Linked DNA regions of Homo sapiens. The protein of the gene in region 2 interacts with the protein of the main gene of each other region in a pairwise test. Each region holds a gene or a part of one and is shown on either strand. Other genes may lie near its edges.

Evidence for each region.
Region 1: the proteins of FNIP2 (region 2) and FLCN interact in binary tests that used the Homo sapiens proteins (3 or more experiments, as listed by UniProt).

Annotation. Positions count from the first base shown.
Region 1 is NC_000017.11:17,219,338-17,227,474, reverse strand, and holds part of FLCN (folliculin), read left to right. Parts: intron 1-1,152; coding exon 1,153-1,299; intron 1,300-2,963; coding exon of another isoform or gene 2,964-3,017; intron 3,018-3,331; coding exon 3,332-3,553; intron 3,554-4,813; coding exon 4,814-4,974; intron 4,975-5,846; coding exon 5,847-5,938; coding exon of another isoform or gene 5,939-6,096; exon of another isoform or gene 6,097-7,908; intron 7,909-8,137. UniProt on the Homo sapiens protein: Multi-functional protein, involved in both the cellular response to amino acid availability and in the regulation of glycolysis.
Region 2 is NC_000004.12:158,759,517-158,776,382, forward strand, and holds the start of FNIP2 (folliculin-interacting protein 2), read left to right. Parts: upstream 1-9,509; 5' UTR 9,510-9,696; coding exon 9,697-9,803; intron 9,804-16,866.

The DNA.
Region 1 (8,137 bases), on a different chromosome or scaffold from region 2:
CCCAAAGTGCTGAGATTACAGGCGTGAGCCACCACACCCAGCCTATGTTAACTTCTTTAACCCACTCTGCCTCCCTGCCGTGGCCTTCATGTTTGTATTCACACACTCCAGCCTGTCCTGGAGGCGGGTCCCCAAAGTCCCGTGCTCCCAGTGGAGTTTCCTGCTCCCAGGACCCCCAGTGTTCTCGGTGGGTCACTCCATCAGCTCTTGAACTCTCGGGAATTAGTGTGAGTTTTCCCCAGTGGGCCACTTGTTTTTGTGGAGGACCTGGGTCAGGGCCCAAAATCAGGGGTGGGTGTTGGACCTGCCACTGCAGTGCAAACGGGAACCCAAGCTTGTTCTTTTGGTTCTGCTGCAGAAGCAGAGGACGTGTAAGAGCTGCATCCATTGCTGGAATTGCCTGTAAGGAATGGGGGATGGGGAGCACCTCAGACCTGGGAAGGAGGGCACCGCCAGGCTGCTGGGGCATCCTTGAGCTGGTTTTGGGGTTGCCCATGGAGGAATCCTGCGACACTGTGGGGAGAGTCTTGCTGACGCACTGCCGCACAGTCCTGGGGTAGGAGCAGCTCCAGGGCGCACAGCCTCAGCATCGGAGTGGCTGTGGCTGCAGCGGGGCAGCGGGGCAGCAGTGGTGAGCTGCCACACCAACATCCTGGAGCTTGGTGCTCGCCCTATTTATTGGGCCTCTCGCCTGTGGCTGAAGCCCCTTCCAGGTGTTAGTTCAGAACCAATGATGGAGGCTGGGGGCAGTGGGTAGTGTTACCACCACAGAGCCCCTCACCCTCGGGCCAGCTACTTCTCACTTCAGCCTCAGTTTTGTCTTCTGTAGAATGGGGCTTCTCACTGACATTATCTCAGAGGGTGGCACTTGGGATTGAATGAGATGGAGCATGCAGGGCCCTTTTCATGTTACCTACTTCGTAAGTGCTCAGCAAATACCTGTTAGGAACAACCTCTGGCAATCTCTGCGATCTCTGTGTTCTGTTTTCCTCTTTAGGAAACATTTAAATCTTCAGATAAGTATAAATCTGGAAGCCAATTATTTTTTTACAAAAATAGCTTGAGTTTTCCGAGCTCAGATTTGCATAAACCTAAGAGAGTTTGTCGCCCTGCTTCCCAACTAACAGATTTACTTTTCCTTTTCATGGACAGGGCTGCCGGTCACTTGCTGCAGGGCACCCGGGATATATCAGCCATGATAAAGAGACCTCCATTAAATACGTCAGCCACCAGCACCCCAGCCACCCCCAGCTCTTCAGCATTGTCCGCCAGGCCTGTGTCCGGAGCCTGAGCTGTGAGGTGAGCCTTGTGGCCACAGAGCCTGTCTCTGTGGGAGCCCACATGCTCCCAGGTGCTCTGGGTGGGCTCGGAGCCAGCATTGCACAGGGAGGCAGGCACTGGTCCTCTCTCAGGGCGGACCCGCAGATCAGCACAGCACAGGGTACAGGACGCCTCCCTTGTCCAGAATTGCGGGAGGAGTCATGTTGGACTTGCTGAGCATTTTCTGATTGAGTGCTAGCTTTTGCACTTTAAGCACCGAACTTTTATTATTTGTCCTTTCTTTATTATTATTGTTTTCTTTTTTCCTTCTTTTGTGTCAGGGTCTCGCTCTGTCGTCCAGACTGGAGTGCAGTGGTGCCGTCATGGTTCACTGCAACCTCAAACTCCTGGGCTCAAGCGATCCTCCCGCCTTAGCCTCCCAGGTGGCTGGGACCACTGGTGTGTGCCACCATGCTCAACTGGGGTTTGTTTTTTGTTGTTGTTAAGACAGAGTCTCACTCGGTTGCCCAGGCTGGAGTGCAGTGGTGCAATCTCGGCTTACTGCAACCTCCACCCTGGGTTTAAGTGATTCTTCTGTCTCAGCTATCCTGAGTAGCTGGGACAACAGGCGTGTGCCACCATGCCCGGCTAATTTTTTGTATTTTTAGTAGAGAAGAGATTTCACCATGTTGGCCGAGCTGGTCTTGAACTCCTGACCTTGTGATTTGCCCGCCTCGGCCTCCCGAAGTGCTGGGATTACAGGTGGGAGCCACTGTGCCCCACCTTTTTAAAATTTTTTTGTAGAGATGAGGTCTCAGTATGTTGCCCAGGTTGGTCTCGAACTCAAGCAATCCTCTGGCTCATCCTCCCAAAGCACTAGGATTACAGGTGTGAGCCGCCATGCCCAGCCATGTGTGTCTATTCTTGATGGATGTATTCCTAAGATAGGAAGCATTTCTAGGTTAGGTGGTTCATTGCATCAACATCACCTTTTTTTATTATCTCAGTCCTCATTCCAAGTCTCAGTGATGATCCCGTGCTGCTCTCAGCCTGCTGAGGTGTGGATGATTTCTTCCTAAACTACGTCGCTGCTGCTGTTGCTCTTGACTCTGAGCTCAGGTCTTTGTTACAAAGAATTCGTCGTTCAGTTACTAAACTTCCTTGTCATTGGTGTCCACCCAGTTCGACACACCAAGCTCCCTTACTGTTCTCATTCAGTGTGGCTGTGTGCCTGCCCTCAACTGTCCTCTCCTTTTAATTTCCTACCGCTGGTCTGCTAGCAGGCAGCTCGGCATGTCTGTTAGAATTGTGTGTTAAGGAAGAGTAAGTATGTAATGAGGAGGGACTGAAATCCTCTTATAAGAATAAAGTACGTGGGGCTGGGCATGGTGGCCCACTCCTGTAATCCCAGCCCTTTGGGAGGCCAAGGCCGGCAGATCACCTGAGGTCAGGAGTTCGAGACCAGCCTGGCCAACATGGTGAAACCCCCTCTCTAAAAAAAATACAAAAAAATTAGCCAGGCGTGGTGGCACACTCTTACAATCCCAGCTACTCAGGAGGCTGAGGCAGGAGAATTGCTTGAACCCAGGAGACGGAGGTTGCAGTGGGCCAGGATCACACCACTGCATTCCAGCCTGGGTGACAAGAGCGAGACTCCATCTCAAATAAAGAAAGAAAGAAAGAATAAAATGTGCGGATTTCAGTGCAGGGAGAGTGCAGTGGCTGCTCTGACCTGCTGGTTCTTCTGCATGCTCCAGGTGAGTAAGCTGGTACATTTGAGTCTGGGAGAGGTGTGACATATGCATGGGAGTTATTTATGGCTCAAGGTGGAAGAAAAGCAATAAGCCTTGTTACCGGCCCTTGCAGTCCACAATGACAAGTGTTGTTGGAAGCTTGATCACAGGAGCAGAAGAGTACAGTCTTCGGCTCTCATGGCCCCCACTGTGCCACTCTCCCCGTTATTAACGCTGGCTGATTTGTGCCAGCTGACTCTGAAAAGTCTGAAGAAGAGGCTTTGATTTGGTGTCACTAAGCGAGGAAAGGGCTGTCTGAGTCGCCGGTGTCCCTCCAGGTCTGCCCTGGCCGTGAAGGCCCCATCTTCTTCGGAGATGAGCAGCACGGCTTTGTGTTCAGCCACACCTTCTTCATCAAGGACAGCCTGGCCAGGGGCTTCCAGCGCTGGTACAGCATCATCACCATCATGATGGACCGGATCTACCTCATCAACTCCTGGCCCTTCCTGCTGGGGAAGGTCCGGGGAATCATCGATGAGCTCCAGGGCAAGGCGCTCAAGGTGAATTCAGAGATGAGGTGCCGGGGCGGCAGGGGGCCCTGCACTGCATGAGCCGCTCTGTGCTGAGGTTGAGGCCTGGAGACCGCGTGGCGTCTTCCCCTCTGCTTACAGCCAGTGCACTGTGTGAATTGTAGTCTCTTGGCTTCAGAGCTGGAGGTCGTGAGGAGCCTCCCAGGCCATCCCGCCTGCTTTGCTGGTCTCTCTTGTGCCCGTTGTCCTGGTTCTCGCTCAGCTCTGGTTTCTTTGCTGCAGTCAGACCCCTGGTGTCTTTGTTTCCTCTGGCCTTCATCTCAGGGATGTCTGTTAATCCCATTGAGTTGCACCACCGAATGTAGGCCTCCAGCTGTGGAGATGCAGCTCAGGCCAGGCCAGGCCAGGTCGTGCTCTGGTAACAGCCTCGGATCTCAGCACCTTCAAGCCATAGGGCCTGTTTCTTACTCATGGTGTGTGCATTGCAGGAGAGTGGGGCTCTGCTTGCTGTGGTCGTCCTGGCAGGCAGAGCGGCAGCCATATGAAAATGCTTCCCCTAGGCTGGGCGCAGTGGCTCACGCCTGTAATCCCAGCACTTTGGGAGGCCAAGGCGGGCAGATCACCTGAGGTCGGGAGTTTGAGACCAGCTTGACCAACATGGAGAAACCCCGTCTCTTCCAGAAATACAAAATTAGCTGGGCATGGTGGTGCATGCCTGTAATCCCAGCTACTTGGGAGGCTGAGGCAGGAGAAACGCTTGAACCCATGAGGCAGAGGTTGTAGTGAGCCGAGATCACACCATTGCACTCCAGCCTGGGCGACAGAGTGAGACTCCATCTCAAAAAAAAAAAGAAAGGAAAAAATGTTGCTCCTTCTGCCCTCCAGAAGCACAGATGGTGCTGAGGGCCTTGTTTGTCTCAGCTCATTGACCAGAGCCAGTCACGTGTGCCTTAGCCAAGTAGTGCACCCAGAAGGGGAGGTGGAGACAGGTGGGGAGCAGCGCAGATGGCCACTCACGAGAATCCCCCTGGGTGCCTTGGGTCACTCATTAGGAAGGGGACAGGAGAAGCTCAACCGATTTCTGTTCTCGGATAGCTCCTGATGTAGCCGGGGCAGAGCTATGCTGTTGGGAATGATTGGACTGGTGGCACTTTGTGTGCTCTGCATGGAGAGAGTATAGTGGGACTGATCCTCCAGGAGTCAGGTCCTGGAGTTGGCTGTGAACGAGTAGGGGTCCGAGCTGCTGGCAGCTTTGGCTTAAAGAGGCCATCCCTTCCCTTTGCATTTCAGGTGTTTGAGGCAGAGCAGTTTGGATGCCCACAGCGTGCTCAGAGGATGAACACAGCCTTCACGCCATTCCTACACCAGAGGAACGGCAACGCCGCCCGCTCGCTGACATCGCTGACAAGTGATGACAACCTGTGGGCGTGCCTGCACACCTCCTTTGCCTGGTAACGGGCGTCTCTGCTTTTGGCATATCTGTTAGGATAGAGCAGTCACGATACATTGGTTGGCTTGTCCATGGATTTGGGAGAACAGTCCTTAGCCGTGTTTGCTTGCTGCCTCTGTGAGGAGCACTGGCCTGTGGGCACTTGTCAGTGAGCACAGATCTGGGCTGGGAGTCCTTGTTCTGTAGGCCTCTTCCCCTGAGTGTGCTGAAAACATATTGATGTGGAACTCACTTCTTCCTGGGTTCAAGTGATTCTCCTGCCCCAGCCTCCCAAGTAGCTGGGATTACAGGCGCCTGTCACCACACCCAGCTAATTTTTTTATTTTTGGTAGAGACGGGGTTTCACCATGTTGGCCAGGCTGTTCTCAAACTCCTGACCTCATGTGATCCACCTGCCTCAGCCTCCCAGAGTGCTGGGATTACAGGTGTGAGCCACCGCGCCCAGCCTTTTTTTTTTTTTTTAAAGCAAATCTGAGTCGTATCATTCCAGCCATAAATATAATCACAATACTGTGATCATGTCCGACAAAACGGACAGACTCCTGAGTGTTCTCCAGGCTGCAAGCCCTTGTGCAGTTTACCTTTTGTCTCACAAGTGACTGCATTGGCATCGGAGCAGCGCCCCAAGTCTCTCTGGTTTAGAACAGCTCCCCCTTGCATCCCCTCCCCTCCAAGTTCCTCCCATCCATCTATTGAAGGACCTTGGTCGTTGACTTGTGGAACTGCCTGCATGCGGGATCTGGCTGGTTGTGCCCTGCTGGTGTTCTTTTATACCCATTTTTTCTTTAAACTGGTAGGATCAGGGGCTGGGTGAGCGTCAGGTTTGCTTTTTCCTTTGGCGAGAACGCTCATAGCTGGTGCTGTGTTCTCCAGGCTCCTGAAGGCGTGTGGCAGCCGGCTGACCGAGAAGCTCCTGGAAGGTGCTCCGACCGAGGATACCTTGGTCCAGATGGAGAAGCTCGCTGGTGAGGCAGGGGTGCTGTTGCCGGGGCCTTGGCCCGGATGGCCGTGGGGCGGTACCAGCTGTCTGCTCTCCTGGCAGGAATCGCTGAGGGAGGGAAACGCGGCTCTGAATCAGCCCAGAACGAGCCTTCGGGAAGCTCACCCTCCGATCTCGGTGTGATTGTTGTGATTGTTGTGATTTCCTGTCTCGTTTGCCTTGACCGCCATGTGAAAGAATCTGTTCCCCAGCTAGGTGGGGAAAATTCACAGGTGGGCTGTCTGTAGAGAGAACTGGCTGATTAAAGGCTTCTCGTCCCGATTTTGTGATAGCCAAGTGCTTGGCCTGGTCGACGGTCTTTGCTCCTTTACAAATAAAGTGTTCTGTTTCAGTTCGTCCCAAGTTTTCCATGAAGGGCAGTGGTTCCCTGACCTCCCAGGTGCCTGGGCTTCCCCAGGTTCCTGATCTGGGGCTTGGGGCCCTGTGTTTGGGGATCGTGGCACTGTGTGCACCAGCCTGGAAGCACTGGGCCAGTCTTGGCCAAGCTTTCCATCAGGGATGATTTGATCTTGGTGCTACAGGTCTGTGGTACGACCATTGTTCCACACCACATGTCATTAATAATGCTTCCCATGCTTCTGCTTGCAAATGACCAGCCTTCCAAACAGCCAGAGCTGTTTCGAGGTGTTTCTGCAGGCAGGTGCAGGCGTGCCCTCAAATAAGCTTTGCCAATGGAGTCTCAGCAAGAGCAAAACCTGGTCAGGAAAGACAAAGCCTGGGAATCCACCCCCATGCCCTGCAGGTTGGCTGGCCCTGGAGCCATTTATTATAGTGCTAATCATGTTTCTAGGCAGGTGCAGATGGCAAGGGCAGTGTCTTGGTGAGCTTTTTAGCACGAAGAGCCAGGTCTGTCGAAGCCTTTGTGAGAGCTGGAAACGCAGGTGTGCTGGGCATGCGCAGTATGGGGTTTCGGGCTCAGGGCTTGCCCTTTGGCATCAGACAGACCTGGCTTCGCATCCTGGATTTGCTTCTGACGTGCACCCTTCCCTTTGGGTCTCGTGATGTGAAATGGAGATGTTGTCATTTGTGAGGGCTCCATGAAGTTTCGTTGAAATGACAAATACTAATTTCTTCATCTGTGAAATGGAGATAATAGTGCTGACCTCAGAACAGCTGAGAGGACTAAATGAAATGATGTTGGATGTAGCCATAAAGAACGAAGTCAGGCACTGGTGCACGCCTGGAATCCCAGCTCTTGGGAGACCGAGACAGGTGGATTGCTTGAGCTCAGGAGTTTGAGACCAGCCTGAGCAACATAGGGAGGTCCAGTCTCTACAAAAAATATGAAAAGTAGCTGGGCGTGGTGGCGCATGCCTGTAGTCCCACTACTTGGAAGGCTTCGTTGGGAGGATCACTTGAGCCCAGAAGATTGAGGCTGCAGTAAGCCGTGATCGTGCCACTGCATTCCAGCCTGGGCAACAGAGCGAGACACTGTCTCAAATAAAAAAGATGGGAATAGTAGACACTGGGGGCTCCAGAAGGAGGGAGGGAGGGAGGAAGGGGAGGAAGGGCTGAAATGCTTTCTATTGGATACTATCTGGGCATATTACTTCCTGTGGTTCACTGTCTGGGTGACAGGATTCATAGAAGCCCAAACTTTAGCACCACGCAGCATACCCTTGTAACAAAGCCGCACACGTACGCCCTCAAGCTAAAACAAAAGTGGACCGGGAGGCCGAGGTCGGGGGATCATGAGGTCAGGAGTTTGAGACCAGCCTGGCAGATAACGGTGAAACCCCGTCTCTACTAAAAATACCAAAAAAAGTTAGCCGGACATGGTGGCAGGTGCCTGTAGTCCCAGCTACTTGGGAGGCTGGGGCAGAAGAATCGCTTGAACCCAGGAGGCGGAGGTTGCAGTGAGCCGAGATTGCGCCACTGCACTCCAGCCTGTGCGACAGAGTGAGACTCCGTCTCAAAAAAAAAAAAAAAAAAAAAAGTGGAAAAAAAAGAAACAACGTGTAGATCCTCGAGAACTGTGGCCGACTGGGTGTGTTCCGTAGACACGCTGTTGGCATTTTTCTTACTGATTTGAGTTTTCTCACCAGCAGAGAACAGCTGACGGTCTTTCCATAAGTGCTTCTAAGAGAGATGTGTGGTACCCCGGGCTAAGTAGACAGCAACTGAGCCCTCCCTCCCACCCCAGGGCTCCCAGAGCAACAGGGAG
Region 2 (16,866 bases):
GCGTGATCTCGGCTCGCTACAACCTCCACCTCCCAGCCGCCTGCCTTGGCCTCCCAAAGTGCTAAGATTACAGCCTCTGCCTGGCCGCCACCCCGTCTAGGAAGTGAGGAGCGTCTCTGCCTGGCCGCCTATCATCTGGGATGTGAGGAGCCCCTCCGCCCGGCCGCCACGTCTGGGAAGTGAGGAGCGCCTCTGCCCGGCCGCCCCTTCTGGGAGGTGACGAACGCCTCTGCATGGCTGCTGTGCAATCTTCCAAGTGTGAAGTGACAGCCTTTCTGCAGGTGTACCCAACAGCTCCGAAGAGATAGCGAACATCGAGAACGGGCCATGATGACGATGGCGGTTTTGTCAAAAAGAAAAGGGGGAAATGTGGGGAAAAGAAAGATCAGATTGTTACTGTGTCTGTGTAGAATGAAGTAGACGTAGGAGACTCCATTTTGTTCTCTACTAAGAAAAATTCTTCTGCCTTGGGATGCTGTTAATCTATAACCTTACCCCCAACCCCATGCTCTCTGAAACATGTGCTGTGTCAACTCAGGGTTAAATGGATTAAGGGCGGTGCAAGATGTGCTTTGTTAAACAGATGCTTGAAGGCAGCATGCTCCTTAAGAGTCATCACCACTCCCTAATCTCAAGTACCCAGGGACACAAACACTGCGGAAGGCCGCAGGGACCTCTGCCTAGGAAAACCAGAGAACTTTGTTCACGTGTTTATCTGCTGTCCTTCTCTCCACTATTATCCTATGACCCTGCCACATCCCCCTCTCCGAGAAACACCCAGGAATGATCAATAAATACTAAAAAAAAAAAAAAAAAAAAAAAAAAAAAGTTTGGGTTGAGAGAAGAAAGTGTCTTGGGAGGAATTTTTTAAAACTGAGAAGGCATGGAAACATATGGCATTTTTACATTTCTTTTACAAAATGTATTCAGGGCCGGGTGCGGTGGTTCATGCCTGTAATCTCAGTACTTTGGGAGGTCCGGGTGGGCAGATCACCTGAGGTCAGGAGTTCCAGACCAGGCTGATCATGGAGAAACCCCATCTCTACTAAAAATACAAAAATCAGCCAGGCATGGTAGCACACGCCTGTAATCCCAGCTACTTGAGAGGCTGAGGCAGGAAAATTGCTTGAACCCAGGAGGCAGAGGTCGCAGTGAGCCAAGATCACACCACTGCACTCTAGCCTGGGTGACAGAGCGAGATTCCATCTAAAAAAAAAAAAATGTATTCAGTGACTAATATCTCACAGATTCTATGCATGGAGTTAGAGATGCAAAAATCCAAAAATCCCCCATCTCATCCCTTAAGAAAGATCCATGGTCATGATGTAGTAGGTTCCTGAAAAATACTCAGGAAAAATACAGCTGTCTGCATTTTGTAATTTATAAATTAATTTATATGCAGCCAATTCTCGTGGTTGTTTGGCCACCAGTCATTTTCCCCACTCCCCCTTCTCTTTTTGAGAGACTTGGTTTTGTTCTGGTGAGTATCACTCCACCGGGTGACTCAGGGAATAGTCTCGTTAGTCAAAGACAATCATAATAACACCACATCCCCCTTGCCAGTGATTAGATGCTGCAGAGCTTCTGAGAAAATGAAACACACAGGGAGAGACCAGCCCCATCTCCTGCTGAATATAGTTGCACCTGCACATAGTCCCCAGAAGTGTGGGGCCATCTTGGTGCCAGCCCGAGGAAGAATTTAATACACAGAGGAGAGCAGAGCCAAGGGAATCCCAGAGAAGCAGGGGTGGCTCTAGTATGCCATGGCTGGCCCCTGTCCTACCTCTAGACCTAACATTTTATGAGGTAAAATGTCCTCTTATTGTTTAAGCCAATTTGGGCTGGAGCTTCTATTACTTGAAGTAAAAGGCAATAACTGATACAGTCTGCTTTGTCTCAGGAAGAGGATTTGGTATAAGAGGGAGAAGAGAGAAGGCAGATAGTATTACATGTTAGGTGATTCAGAAAGGCAAAATTCACATTCAGAGTAGGAGACCCAATATTGGTGATGCTGAAGCAAAAGGGCTTTGGGGTTAAGCCAAGTAATCAAAAACAAAAGTCTAAGTCCCCTATACGATCAGTTTCCTAATGGGGACTTACAACTGAACAGCAATGATCTCTTCTTCCTCCCAAAATAAATAAATGGAAAAAGTTAAGAAAGTCTTCCTCATCTAGCAATTTCCATGGCAAATTCTTTTGTGAGGGTCTAGAGCTTACCATGGTGTAGGGATGGCAAACTCCATTCATTTATTGACTCATTCATTCATTCAGCCAACAAATACATATCTGAGGAGATACCATGTGCCAGGCATATTAGTCAACAAGTCAGTCTCTGACCTAAAGGAGTATATATGTTTAGTGTGGGACAAAGGTGTTATAAATTTAGTGTGGGACAAAGGTGTTACAAATTTATTTATTGGTTAATTACAAATTATTGTAAGTGCTTTAAAGAAATAGAAAAGGGTGGTATAACAGAAACACTGGGGGCAAGGTCAGAGCTTTTAATTAAGAACACAGATTGAGGGAATCAGCCAGTCAACATGTGAATAAGTGACATTAAGTTGAGACCTGAAAGATAAATGGGAGTGCTGGGTGCAGTGGCACACACCAGTAATCCCAGCACTTTGGGAGTCTGAGGCCAGTGGATTGCTTGAGCTCAGGAGTTTGAGACCAGCCTGGGCAACAAGGCAAAACCCCGTCACTACAAATACAAAAAAAATTAGCCAGGCGCGATAGTGTGTGCCTGTAGTCCCAGCTACTCAGGAGGATGAGGTGGGAGGATCACCAGGAAGCAGAGGTTGCAGTAGGCCAAGATCACACTACTGCCCTCCAGCCTGGGTGACAGAGTGAGACCCTGTCTCAACAACAACAACAACAACAACAACAACAACAACAACAAACACATAGGAGTTAACCAGGCAGAACTGTGGGATGGGGGTGGGAGCACTCCTGACAGAGGAGGCTTGGTTGAAGAAATGAAAGCACACCAATGTGGCTAGAAGACACCAAGGGTGAGGTTGGGGGTGGGTGATGTGAGATGAATTTAGCGAGGAAGGCAGGGACCCAAACCTCTCTTGGCAATGCTAAGAATTTTGGATTTTACTAAGCGTGATGAGAAACCACTAAAAACTTTTAATCGAAGAAGGGACATGAAAAAAAGTTACACTTATAAGTGATCCCTACAGCAGCTGCACTAGAGTAGATAGGAGTTGGGCAAGAAAGTAACCAATTACTACTGCCAAAGTCCAAGAGATAAACGGGGCTTGGACTAGGGTGATGGCAATGAATAGAGAAATAAATGGATGAGAAATATTTTGGATGATGAGATAAATAGAAGGATTAAGGATGCTTCCTAAGTTTCAGTTTAAACAAATGTGTAGAAGGAAGGTGCCATTTACTGGGATAGGGAAGATGGCAAAGGAAGCAGGATTTGGAACAAGCAAAGATAAAGAGTTCAGTGTGTGATGCTTTTAAGATATCCCAGTGGAGATATTAAGTAGGTAGCTGGTTGTAAAATTCTGAAGAGAGGTCAGGACCAAAGGTAAAAATTAGGTGTCATCGACAGATAGACGGCATTTAAAGTCACAGGGATGGATGAGTTTATCTAGGGAGCTTAAGAATACAAATGAGAAGAATAGAAGTGAGACAAGAGAAGCCCGAGGAATTTCATACTTTAAAGGATAAGAGAGGCTGGGTACAGTGGCTCATGCCTGCAATATCCCAGCACTTTGGGAGGCCGAGGCAGGAGGATTGCTTGAGCCTAGCAGTTCTAGACCAGCCTGGGCTAATAGTGAGATATCATCTCTAAAAAAAAACATTAAAAAATTAGCTGGGTGTGGTGAGTGCCGGTGGTCCCAGCTACTCAGGAGGCTGAGGCAGGAGGAATGCTTGAACTTAGTAGGTCAAGGCTGCAGTGAGCTGTGTTTGTGCCACTGCACTCCAGCCTGGGCAACAAAGTGATATCCTGTCTCTAAATAAATAAAGGATGGGAAAGGAAGACCCACTAGTGGAGACTGAGTAGCCAACAAGTTTAGTTAAAACTAGAAGAGGTCTGCAATACTGAAAGATGAAAGTTTCCAAAAGGAGAAATGGTCAGTTGAATTGATTGCAGAGAAGAGAAAAATGTCGCTTGATTTCAGCACCATGGAGGTCACTGATTGCCACTGTAAGATTGTCAGGTGGATGGAGCTCTGCAAATACCGGAAGAATCAATTTATAGGATTCATTAGATTCAATGTTAGATTTTGAGGTTTTCTTCCCTGAGAGCTTCTGCTTTTTATTTGTTGTTGTTGCTGTTGTTTGTTTTTAAACAGGGTCTCACTCTGTGACCCAGACTGGAGTGCAGTGGCGCGATCAAGGCTCACTGAAGCCTCAACTTCCCAGGCTCAAGTGATTCTCCCACTTTAGCTCCCCTAGTAGCTGGGACTAAAGGCGCATGCCACCACGCCTAATTTCTTTTTAACTTTCTGTAGAGACACAGTCTCACTATGCTGCCCAGGCTGGTCTTTAACTCCTGGGCTCAAGGAATCCTCCCACCTCGGCCTCCCAGAGTGCTGGGATTACAGGTGTGAACCACTGTGCCTGGCTGGTTCTAACTGCTTATAAGGATGGTTATTTCATTATTTTTATTCTTTCTTAGACTCTCACTTTTTCCAAAAATGTAAATTTCCCTTTAAAAAATATAATAAAACTCTATCTTGCAAGTCCCACATAGGGTCCACTGGACCCTTTCATAACTTAACAGGATCTTGGTGATTCTGATTTCCTCTAGCTCCAGAAATTTTGCTATATCACTATCCTAGGGATTATTTCAACATTTTTCAGCAATTCCCAACTGTACAAGACAAGACAAAAATAGTTAAGGTGGGTGCTATAACAGAAGCACTGGGGACAAAAGTGAAATAAATCATCGCTATTAGATGATTCTTCCTTTATCTTATTGTAATGCCCAAAACACTGTATCATCTTTTAAGAGGGTAGAAAAAAAATCTGGAGATATTATTTTAATAGTATTTGTTGTTTTTTTTAAAGCTTTCGTTGATAAATATTCAGAATTTTTCATTTTTTCCCATAACGGCAAAGAGAAGAAAATTGATGAAAATATTTCTAATAATTAGAAAAAGCAGATGTCTAATGCAAAAAGACAGAGGACTCTATACTTTAAAGATGATGGTGAAATTTTATTTATTTAATTTTATTTTAGAGACAGGATCTTGCTCTGTTGCCCAGACTGGAGTACAGTGGTGTGATCATAGCTCACTGCTTCCTCGAACTCCTGGGTTCAAGTGATTCTCCTGCCTCAGCCTCTTAAGTAGGTAGGACTACGGGTATATACCACCATGCCCAGCTATTTTTTTTTTTACTTTTTGTGGAGAGAGGGTCTCATGCTGTTGCCCAGACTGGTCTTAAACTCCTGGGCTCAAGCAATCCTCTCACCTAGGCCTCCCAAAGTGCTGGGATTTATCGGTGTGAGCCATCGTGGCTGGCCTGAAACATGTAAGTGAAATCTCAGATTATGAGTCTTTAGATAATGATATCCTAGATACATTTTCTCAAACTCAAGAACTGACAATTCAACAACATATACCTAAGGATAAAAAGGAAATAGGGTATTCTCATCCAGTTTGACATTTAATAGGAATTACTTCCTTATTCAATACTTTGCAACAAGAACCTGAGCCATCCTAAAAAAGTGTGATATCTTGTCATCTTTCATGGTGTTGTGCATCCAATATACTTCATATAGTTTATAAGATAACAAATGATAAAGGCAGATGTATATATACAAAGGTGAAGGGAAGGAAATCTATAAGGAAGAGATGAAAAAATTCATTGGATTGCTAATTCTACTTGGTGTTTATAAATCTAAAAATGAAAATATTTTGCAACTAAGAAACAAAGAAAATAACTACTGTCTCTTCAACAAAATGATGAGCCATCAAAGTTTTCAAAAGCACTGCTTTTTGTTTATTCAAGTGCAAGCAGCACAAAGGTAATGATAAGTTAGAATCGTTAGAGATGTATTTGATTCTGGGTGTGGTGGCTCACACCTGTAATCTCAGCACTTTGGGAAGCTGAGGCAGGTGGATCACTTGAGGTCAGGAGTTCAAGACCAGCCTGGCCAACATGGTGAAACTCTGTCTCTACTAAAAATACAAAAAATTAGCCGGGCGTGGTGGTGGGTATCTGTAGTCCCAGCTACTCTGGATGGTTAGGCATGAGAATTGCTTGCACCCAGGAGGCGGAGGTTACAGTGAGGCAAGACTGCGCCACTGTACTCCAGCCTGGGTGACAGAGTGAGACTCTGTCTCAAAAAAAAAAAAATGTATTTGAAGCCTGGAATCAATATTTATAAGATGATTGTGTTCCTGGTTCATATATGCTAATTGATAAGTAGTCAGTTACGTTCAAAGAACACTGTCCATTTAGGGTAAATAATCCTTCAAATGCAGGAAAATATAGAATAAAAAACGGGTTTGCTGTACTGAAATTAAAAATTTTTTAAAGAATTATTTTTCACTATTCCTTTAGTCTTAGCTCTGTAAATAATTTGCAAAATCACTTAACAGTATGAAAAAACAGAACAGGACCATTGGTGACAAGTATTTTCTCTGGCATATTGAGAGATAAACAGATTGGCATTATGTGTCTCACATAACAAGCAATAAAGAGGACAGAAAACACGAACCTGCCTCAGCCTCTTATAGACTGGTCTATAAGAAAATAGAAATATTATCTCACCTAATGGAGAGTGTCAGGTTAGGGCAGAGGGATTGTGGCTCAATAATGCCATCAAGGACCCAGCTCGCTTCTATGTCTCTTTGCCATCTCCAGTCCTGGTTTCATCTTTAGGCTTGTAGCAAGATGGCATTAGACCTAGACATATAACATCCAAAGGAAGAAAAAAACCCACCTATCTCTCTCTCTCTCTCTTTCTATTAAGAGTGAGGAAACTTTTTCCAGAATTACTCCTTTTCCTCCAGCTCCTTTCTCTCTTGCCTCCTGTTAGGAATAAGGGTAACAGGTATTACATAGGCTACAAACGGTATCAATGACAGTCTAATTGCAGAAGCAGAACTAAAACAACTTACATAATATCCACTAATTGAGAACTGTCACCAGGACTCAGAATGGACCGGACTAAGTAAGTCAGCCCTTTACAACTTCCCCTTTCCCATTTTAGTGTTGTTCTGTCATCTCCAAGCATTCAGGATATTGTCTTATTCCCTGCTCCTCTTGACAGCTGCGTACAAGAACAGCCAGCTGGTATATTTTCCAAGATAGGGTGAGTGGGAAGAGGTGAATAAAGGAGATGTATGGAACTGGGCGATGGGCCACGTGACCAGTGTTGGAGACTGAGATTATGACAAGCCTCAGGGACCAGGCAATGACCAATGGATGATGGGCAAAAGATTGGATTTTTGTAGCGGCCTTGAGTAGCCAATAAAATAAAATAAAAATAAAAAACAAGAAGACTGGGAGAGCTGGCTAGAGCTGTCTCCCAGAACTTTTTTGGCTAGGATTTTTGTATACTTTAAAAATCCAAAGGAGGAGGTGTGGCCAGAACCAGGATGAGGAAGAATGTGATGCTGAGAGGAAGCACAGGGAGAAAGAGGGGAGAAGGGAAGCATTTTGGTTCCTTTTGTCTCCTTTAACTGAAGTCCTGGCTTTAATAGTTTAAAATACACACTCTTCCTTTATAGTTGCCTAGTCAAAACCAAAATTGAAGATGATGGCTAGAGCAGGTTATGATTTTTTAATTGCCTCTTTTGGATGATCTTGTCTATTTGGACTGGGTTGGAACTGAAAGAGTCCTAGGAAGTGAGGAATGAGGCACAATATGTCAAATTCCTCTTCTATATGCAGTTACAAAAGCTGCTAGGCTCATGAGGAACATGCAGATTTTAGTCTGGAGAATAAAGGACATTTTCTGACCAAGGATGGAGTAAGGAAAGGTGGTGAGTTGCTGGCCACAGTATGACCTGGGACTGTATCTGAAAGTCACAACGTATAAAGCCAATACCTTCTATATAGCATCCTGACCAACACTGGCAGCCCTATGAGGTAAAGGCCTTCAGCAAACAGAAATAGCAAAGTTGCAAATTAGGGTTCTGTGTACACTCAATTGTGCAAAAGGATGATTGCTCATCAGGATAAACACTTAATCCACCATTTTAACAGTAAAAGTCCGAAGGAAACAAATGACTAAGTTTCCATTTCTACCACCTTTCTCTTACCTTTGTGAAATTTCAGCACATTATTCACAGCTAGTTCCCAACCAAGTCCAGAAACTAACACAATTAAAAAAAGAAAATGCAAAGTAAAATAGGCCCAGAATAGGTTCTTTTGATTACTTATGTTTTTGGAAATATATTTTCCTTTTTGAGTCTCCAAGAGTCCTCCTCTCAACAAGTGTAAGAGAGCCCAGGTGAGTCACTGTTCACTACTCATGGAGAAGCTAGAAGAGGCATGGTTGGGGTCTTACTAACTTTATCTCTATTTCCCATCATCGGAAAAATTCGTGAAGCCCAACGCTCTAAAACATAGATTAAGAAGTTGCTTTGAGTCTGGTAACGTGTCCTACACTGGCTGTTTAGAGCCCTGCACCACCAAGGATTAAATTCCAAAGGGGACTGGGGTGGGACAGGGCAGGAAAGCGGACTCAAACACATGAACTCCTCCCTTCCTCAAACCAAATATCTGCTGCTGATATGCCTTGATTGACTGTTAAATATGTATTAGGAAAAACAATCCCTTGCTATAAAATATCTTAAGTTTCTAAATCTATGTAGTGAGTTCTGTGTGTGTGTGTGTGTGTGTGTGTGTGTGTGTGTGTGTATGTTTTAAAGGGGGGACTTAATATTTCAAATGCAACTTCTTATATAACCATGGTATGGTGGCCCAAGACGCCAAACAGAACAAATGATTTGGATAAACAGTTTAAATTTTGTGAAAGCCTGGAGGAATCGAATTTGGACATGGAGGAAACCTGACAAAACCTTGGGTGCTATGTGATTCAAATCACAGCCCACCGAAGCGGCCACCGCGCGTACCAAGCCTTCCCCCCTAGCATACGCCTTCTGTGAACGGGCTCTTGTACCTGAACAAAGCGAGGACCCAAGTTCAGGGGCTTTGTCTCTAAAGAACAAAGATCGGCCTAGCTGCATGCTCGCTGTGCGAAAGAACCCAGGCTCCGTGGGAACCCCACGCCACTCGCGGAGCTGCGCCCCGGCGGCCGCCCTCGCCCCTCGGGCCCCTTTAAGTGCCGCGCCTGCCCCCGTCCGCGTCCCCCGCGTGCCCGGAGTACTGGGCCGCCCGCCCGCTCCTGGCCGCACCTCCCACCTCCCGCCTCCCGCCGGGGTTACGTGAGCCCGGGGCGGGCGGCCGCCGGGCCAATGGCCGCCGCCGGGGCCGCCGCGCTCCTCCCGCGCCGCCGCCGCCGCCGTGGGGCTGCGGGCTCCTCCCGCAGGAGATAACTGTCAGCGCGCGAGGCGGTGGCGGGCCGGCTCAGTCATATGACCGGCAGCCGGCGGCTCCGGCGCCGAGCAGAGTTACTCAGTCGCAGCGGCCCCGCGCTCCCGCAAGGCTGGGCGGCCGCGCCGCCGCGATGGCCCCGCCACCGCGGCCGCCGCCCCCGGCTGCGCGCTGAGCCGCCGGCCCCCCGAGCGCCACGGCCGGAGCTGCGGCGGCGGCATCATGGCCCCGACCCTGCTCCAGAAGCTCTTCAACAAAAGGGGCAGCAGCGGCAGCTCCGCGGCGGCGTCTGCCCAGGGCAGGGCTCCTAAGGAAGGACCCGCCTTTAGGTGAGGGGGCGCCGGGGGGCAATTCTGGCGCGGGACCCGAGTTGGCTTCGGTGCTCGCCGGGGAGGGGACGGGTAGGGGAAAGGGAAGGGACTGTCCAGGACGGCGCTGCCTATCGCCGGCACCTGGTCCCGGGCTTGTCAGCGTGGACGCGCCTGATCCGAGTGTGGCTCCGGACCCTCCGTGACCCTTCCTCCCGCTCTTTCTCCACAACTCAGGGTCCTTCCCCATTTCAGAGTTCTCTTGTGTTCCTTGGGGTTCCCGGGCGTGCGCTGTGCTTGGCTGTGGCGACCGGAGATTCTCCGGTTATTGGGGTGAACCCCTTCCGGGCAGAGCCGCCTGGGCACCTCTGCGGGCCCAGCAAAGCTGTGAGCTGTCATTTTGAGGGCAGCTCCAACCTATTGTGTACGTGACAGTGTTTTGAAGTTCTGAAGGAGCAACAGTCACGAAAAAGGCATCTTTCTTCTTTCTTGCCATATATGACAAGCTCTCAAACGGATGAATGAAAGTATGTAATTTCCACATCATGTGGAAGGTTGATGCCGCATGATGTGTGGAAAGGGGGAGTAAGATGCAATTATGAAATTTCCGAGATTTCAATTGATCAAAGCTGATATGTATATTTAATAGATTTGATCTCTCGAACACATACCTTTGAATATTGATAGCATTTATGGAGAGCTTACTACCTAAAATGCTTTATGTTGATTTCTGTCGTTTACTTTTCTGACAATGCGGTGAGGTGGGTGCTATTATAATTCCCATTTTACAGGTGAGGAAACTTAAAGTCACAGATAACTTAGGCGGCTTGCCCAAAATCCAGCTGTCAGTGGTAGAGCCTGTGTTTTGACCCAAGCAGTTTGACCACAGATTCCAGTCTTTAAAATCCCTATGCTATTCTGATTTCAAGGGCTAACTTTTAAAAGACGCCTTAAAATGTCCTATATTGCCTTTGAGCACAGGTATGTTGAGAAGTTTATTTAACAATTTTTCAACACATTTTAAAATTGAGCACCAACTCCCAATTCTGACACTATGCTAGGTGCTTTTTGGCCAAAATGTCTTGCAAAAACAGTTCACTGTTAAACAGATCTAGACCCAGTATAATAAACCTTTAAAAGTTTCAAGTGAAACTTTGAAATAAATTCTGGATTAAGTTTTATGTTCTAGATTTTGCTTTTCTTGAATTCCATCATTTAAAACAGTCTCTCACTGTGGTCATGTGAAAATTAAACGTGTGTGTGTGTGTGCACGCGCGCTCATGGAAGGCATATTGTGAGGACCTTAAACTCCCCAAGTTAAATTCTCATGTTTTCTTTAGGCTAACAAGCCTTATAATTTGAGTGGGAATTCTATGCCTTTTGTTAGGCTGAGTATTAGTGATGCCATGTACCTTCTCAGAATGGTAGAATTACTTCGGACCTAAGGTGTGTAATTTCGTCCCTTCCCTCCCTGTAACCCAGACTCCATCAGGGGTACAAAGCCTGGAGCGGAAGGAGCATGTTACAGGTGTCTGTACTTTGACAGCTCTTGCCAAGGACATTTAAAGCCATTTGAATGCAGGAGGAGATAGTGGCGGTTACTTGTCATTGTTTTCTGTGCTCCTTGCCTAATTGCCTACCACCATTTCCGCTATCCACAAGTTTAACTGAGTGTATTTGAACAAAAAAAATATGGCTATATTTAGGGTTTTGGGCCATATTAGGGAAATTGATTCCCACTTCATGGGAACATTTTCAGTAGTGTTCTGACTTCTCATTTGTGTATAATGAAGAACAGAAAATCGTGCCAAGTACGGTCTTTTTTTTGACCTCATTGGGATTTTCTACAAGAATTTGAGATCGATGTTTTTGGAGAATTTGGGGATCCCAGTTGAACATCCTACTTGATGAGGGCCCCCTTCAATAGTGTCCCTGATAGAGGTCACCATGGAAAAGAAAGTAAAGTAGCAGATGTGAGCAAGGATGCTGGACGATGGGAACAAACCATCCTGTGCTCACCAGACTGACAAAGGAGACCCCAAGCAAGTCTTTCCTTTTGCTCTTTTCACCTGGCTTAATTCTAAGATGCTGTGTAGCTGGCCTGGGAAAAGCTTCCAGGAAAATTTTTCTCTCTACCTAAAAAATTGTGAACCTGTGTTTCATTTTACCCAGATTTTGCCAAATAGGAGTTGGTATGTACTTTGAGGGGAACAAGGTGCCTTATTGCAGGGCATTAGCTGCCCTTGGGAACTACCTTGTAGTTAAATAGAGTTTTAGAAGTGAAGCTAAAACCCTTAGATTAAAAATCGAGTATTCCTAACATGAATTTGTATTCTTTAGTGCATTTAAGTACAGGATGTAACTTGTTTATCTGGAGATTGAAAATTCACTGAGGATTCAGGTAGACTTTTGGGGCAGTTTTGTAGTGTATATGGGGGAGAATCTAAGATCCAACTTTTTGTTTGTTTGTTTTAGAGTTTGTATATCTTCTGTTTCCATGATGGACTTTCACTGGTTATTTTAAACTTCTCTTCTCAGAATTGTTTTGCCCTTGTTGTTAGTCTTTTTACTCTTGTGCACTTCCTAGTCCCTTCGCTGGGCTTATGACTGTTCTCATTCCTCCAGTTTTTACACACTTGATTAGAGAGGAAATCTGTTGTCCAATATAACTAGTTTATCTCACAGGTCATTTTCAGGACTTCATGTTTCCTGGCATTTCATCTAAAAACAGGATCATCATAGTCAAGATTTCTTCTGGAGTATTTCCTTTAGGATCTTGACAGAAAGCCCTTTTCATAGCTTTGAGGAAACAGGTTGCTAGGAAAACAAAAGGAATCACGATTGACCAAACTTACATGTTTGGGAGAAGTAGTCAGGAATGCTATATGATTATGGCATTTACATTTGAATAATGCTTCGTACCAGAAAAATAAATTAGGACAAAAAAAATGATGTGTACAGTGACTCAAGTCAGAAATAGAATTATGTTCTTGGTTACCTTGGATTTAAGGCCAGGATGTTTTCAAGCCACGCTATGTCCAGTGACTTACATGTGTGGTTCACGTTTGAAGCATTATCTTAAGGTTGTTCTTGTTGTTGTTGTTTTTTTCTCCATGTCTTTTGTAAATTAATGGAGCAGTTTCAAACCCCTAAAATGTGTATTTAGCAGGGAGGTGAAAAGACCTTGGGCTACCAGATGTTCTTTTATTTTGGAGCAGTTAAATGAAGTAGGGAAGCATATATATTATCTGGGATATGAAGAACAAGTGAAGGCATTGCAGCTGCTTGTTAGCTAGCTGTGTGAATGCCAGAGAAGAGTATACCTAAGGCCAAATGGCCTAGTAAGTGCTGATCCCCACTGTTTTGTTAGAACAAATTTAATCTGTTATAGAGTTAGTATAAGTATAATTTAATCCACTTATCACATAGCATCTGATGCCTCTGTGCTTGTGGCTTGGCGCTCTACCTGTATAAATCCAGGCAGGACACCCACGGTCTCACCTACTGGAGTTTACAATCTAAAGGACAACAGATTATACACTAAGATGAATAAAGAGCAGACAACACATTGGAAACTATAACAAACAGATAAACACTGATAAAGAGTAGATTTTTATATAAGCACAGAATTAAGAACTTACTTGCTGTTCTTGTGCTTGGAGTGACTAAGGGCCGGATTGTGATTTACTCTTCCCTCACATGGAGGGAAATTACACAGAAGTGCTTCCTCCGCTCCCACTAATAAGTCTCCAGATGCAAGTATTTCTAATGAGATTTGTTCTGAGGTAGGGTGGATAATATTTTGGAAAAAAACAGTTTTGTTCTAGTACACTCAACATTTTTAATGCCAATAATATAAAACATGACATATAAATAGCAGTTTTGATTTCTTTTGACTACTTTCTAAAAGAAAGTCTTTCTGTAGATTTTTCTTGCTTGCTGCCTTGGATCTATTGGCACACTCCTTACATCATATCTCCTTGTCCTGAAAGATACTATGCACTGGTTAGTGATTTTTTCAGAGGTGAAGAAGGGAACCCTTCCTTTGAATGCAGTGAGTTCTATTAAGAGCACTTGGAACACAGATTGAGGAAGCCATTGATTTAGCCCTGCCTCATGTACCATGTTGATGGGAGACCCAACAAGACTCCATTTCTCTGATCCTCAGCTTTGTCATTTGTAAAGTGACAGCATCAGACCTATGTAACAAAGTTGTGGTAAGGAAGTAATGAGCTTGAAAATCTTTTGAAAAGAATAACATGCAATACAAACTGATTTTAAGTATTACTAAGCATCTTTTTTTAGGTCATGGAGTTCAGTATTATTCCTGTTGAGGCTTTACGAAAATGGAACCATTTTTCAGAGGCTGTTTTCTTTCTGTAGATGAGAGTTGAGACAGTGCTGAATTGAACTGTTTTCACTTGCATATTAGTTTTTTAACCTTGATGTAGTCATTCATGAAACAGAGACCTTAAGTTTTCAGAGGGGTCTTAAAGATGTTCAGCGGACACTCACTCAAACCTGGTAGAGGTGACGGGGTGTCAGAAAGATTCTTAGAAATATGGTGTGTTTGTTTTTTCAAAGTTATTTGCAAGTTTTTATTATTAAGAATAAAATTGCATTTAGCCAAAAAAGGAAATTGGTTAAGCAAAATGATATAGTCACACAATGGATGACATTCTATAGCATCCAAATCATAATTTTATACACAGACACACAAAACAAAAGAAAAATGTTCTCAATAGAAGAAGTAAAAGCAACTCTAATAGCCTGACTTCACCACTGTGCAATCTATGCATGTAACAAAATTACACTTATACCCCATAAATTTATATAAATTTTAAAAAGTAAAAGCAAGTTATAAATTTATGTGAAAAACATTTAAAAATAGGAGCGATTATGCATGTGCAGAATAGGCCAGCAACACTCTACACCAACATATTATAACAGTGGTTGCCAAGAGGTAGGTGAAAATTTTATTTTAATTTTTTGTGTTTTATTCTTGTTGGTATTTTTGGATTTTGCTCTAATGAATTTGTGTTACTTTTGTGATTTGGATTATTTTAAACCTAAATATTCTAGATTATTTAACTATTAGATTATTTAACTATTTAAGATAACTTAAATAGCATTTAGCATATTCTACACTGTGAGGGAATAGAGTAAGGATAATGTTTATGGAGAAATCTGATTTGAATAAATTTCATAGAATCTTTCTTCTTCATCAAAATAACTGTTAGCTCCTATTATTAAAAGTAATATGTTTGTTATGAGGTTTAATGTATTTAAAATCTAAACTCATTATAAACCTCAGAGGCTAAGTTAATTGGCAGTGTCAATAATGATAGGAGATATGTATGTGCAAAATGTTTACTAGTTTGACAGGGTCGCTACTTCACCTGAGCTTCAGAGCCCAGTGTAGTCTTCCTGGGGGCTCAGAGTACAGTTAGGAGCTGCATGCAGCTCAAGCTTTATTTGAAATATGTTTAGAAAAGACTGACACAGCCCTTTGGATTTTGAGGGAATGTGGATAAGAGGCCTGGATTAGATGTTTTAAAAGCTAAAACATGTAGTTATAATTTTAAGTCCTGAAATTTGAATTTGTTGTATTATGCATTATTATTTGATTTAGTAGGTGGTACTAAGAGATGGACGGAGGCATGTGGTCTTTTAATGCATGGAGTATATAGCTCCAAAAAGAGCATTGGTTTTTGTTGTTGCTTTAGGTTGTGTTTCTCGTGGTTTGCCTGTAAGGTCAGCCTAAGGAAGCTACTTTGCCGTTGTGTTTCCTTGGAAAAGGAAGCTGTAAAAGATTGTCCTTGCCGTCATGAAATACTTTGGCTGCCAGCATGAACTCCTGGTGTGTGAATCTGATTTGGGAACTGGTAATGTGCTTTATTTCTCCAGCCACTGTTTTTCTTGGTGTGGGTGAAAAGGAACAAATGTTTTGTACTGATTGTACAAGCCCCTTGCTTAGTGTGAATTGTTAGGCCTGGACTATGAGATCATATACTTGGCTGTAAAAGTAAGTCTTTCCTTTGGATGTAAGAGTGCTGAAATATTTGGTGAGTTCCTACTTACCAAGCATTCTTTATCTCAGATTTATGAAAAATGATTATTATGTAAAAAAAGGAAAAACAGGATGGACTTTTCCAGCTAACTGGGCATGTAACAGTGATTTCCCTCAACCCCACCCCATCTGTAAATGGAACATCCATGACTCACTACTCATGGCCACACAGACACTTTTGTAACCAGTGCTTGAATGGGAGGGTGGGATGGGGATGGAAGGAGATGGGCTGGCACCCCACTTGTGTTCAGCCAGAATCTGTCCAGCTGCCTTTATAATGGACTTCTGAAAAGGACAATGTGCCTTCTCATGCATCATGCTACATATTTTTTTTTCCTTATTGCACTTTCTGTTTGTGCCAGAATAATACAATATATTAAGTGCAATAAAATGTAGCCATTAATACTATAATGTTGTGGATAAATGTTGTATAGCAGAGTACTCTTTCTGTTATATAAGATTTTAGTATTAGCATGAGTTTGGATCCCCGATTATCATATTTCTGTCTCCTGAACTGTGTGCCTTCATTTCTAGGAATTATTTTTCTAGTTATTTGTCCCTGTAAACTTGTTTAATTTGTAGATTATACTTTAGAATTTGTGTCCATCATAGTGCTATAAGAGATTTATATATTGGTTTATGAAGATGATTTTATTACCACACCTAAGACTTTTTAATCATAAATAAGAGATTTCTGTATTTGATATATATCTTTAAATAAATGATTGGTGTTTGGTTATGTGCTGATGTCTAATTGAAAATGACAACCAATTCATGCAGGGTGTCTAAGTGAGAATGAACACTGAGGCAGTAGGAATTCATCCCAAAAGCTGAGGGGGGCTAATTAAGAACCTACATATCTGGTGGGGACCTCAGCCTGATTCCCAGTAAGGATAGTTGCATGTTGTCATAGCAACTCTTTCTTCACAAGTTGAAGACAAGTTAGACGTTAACCTGCACATTCCTCAAGAGATGAAACAGGTGTTGATTTAGGATGTGTTAGGAAGCAGCAGC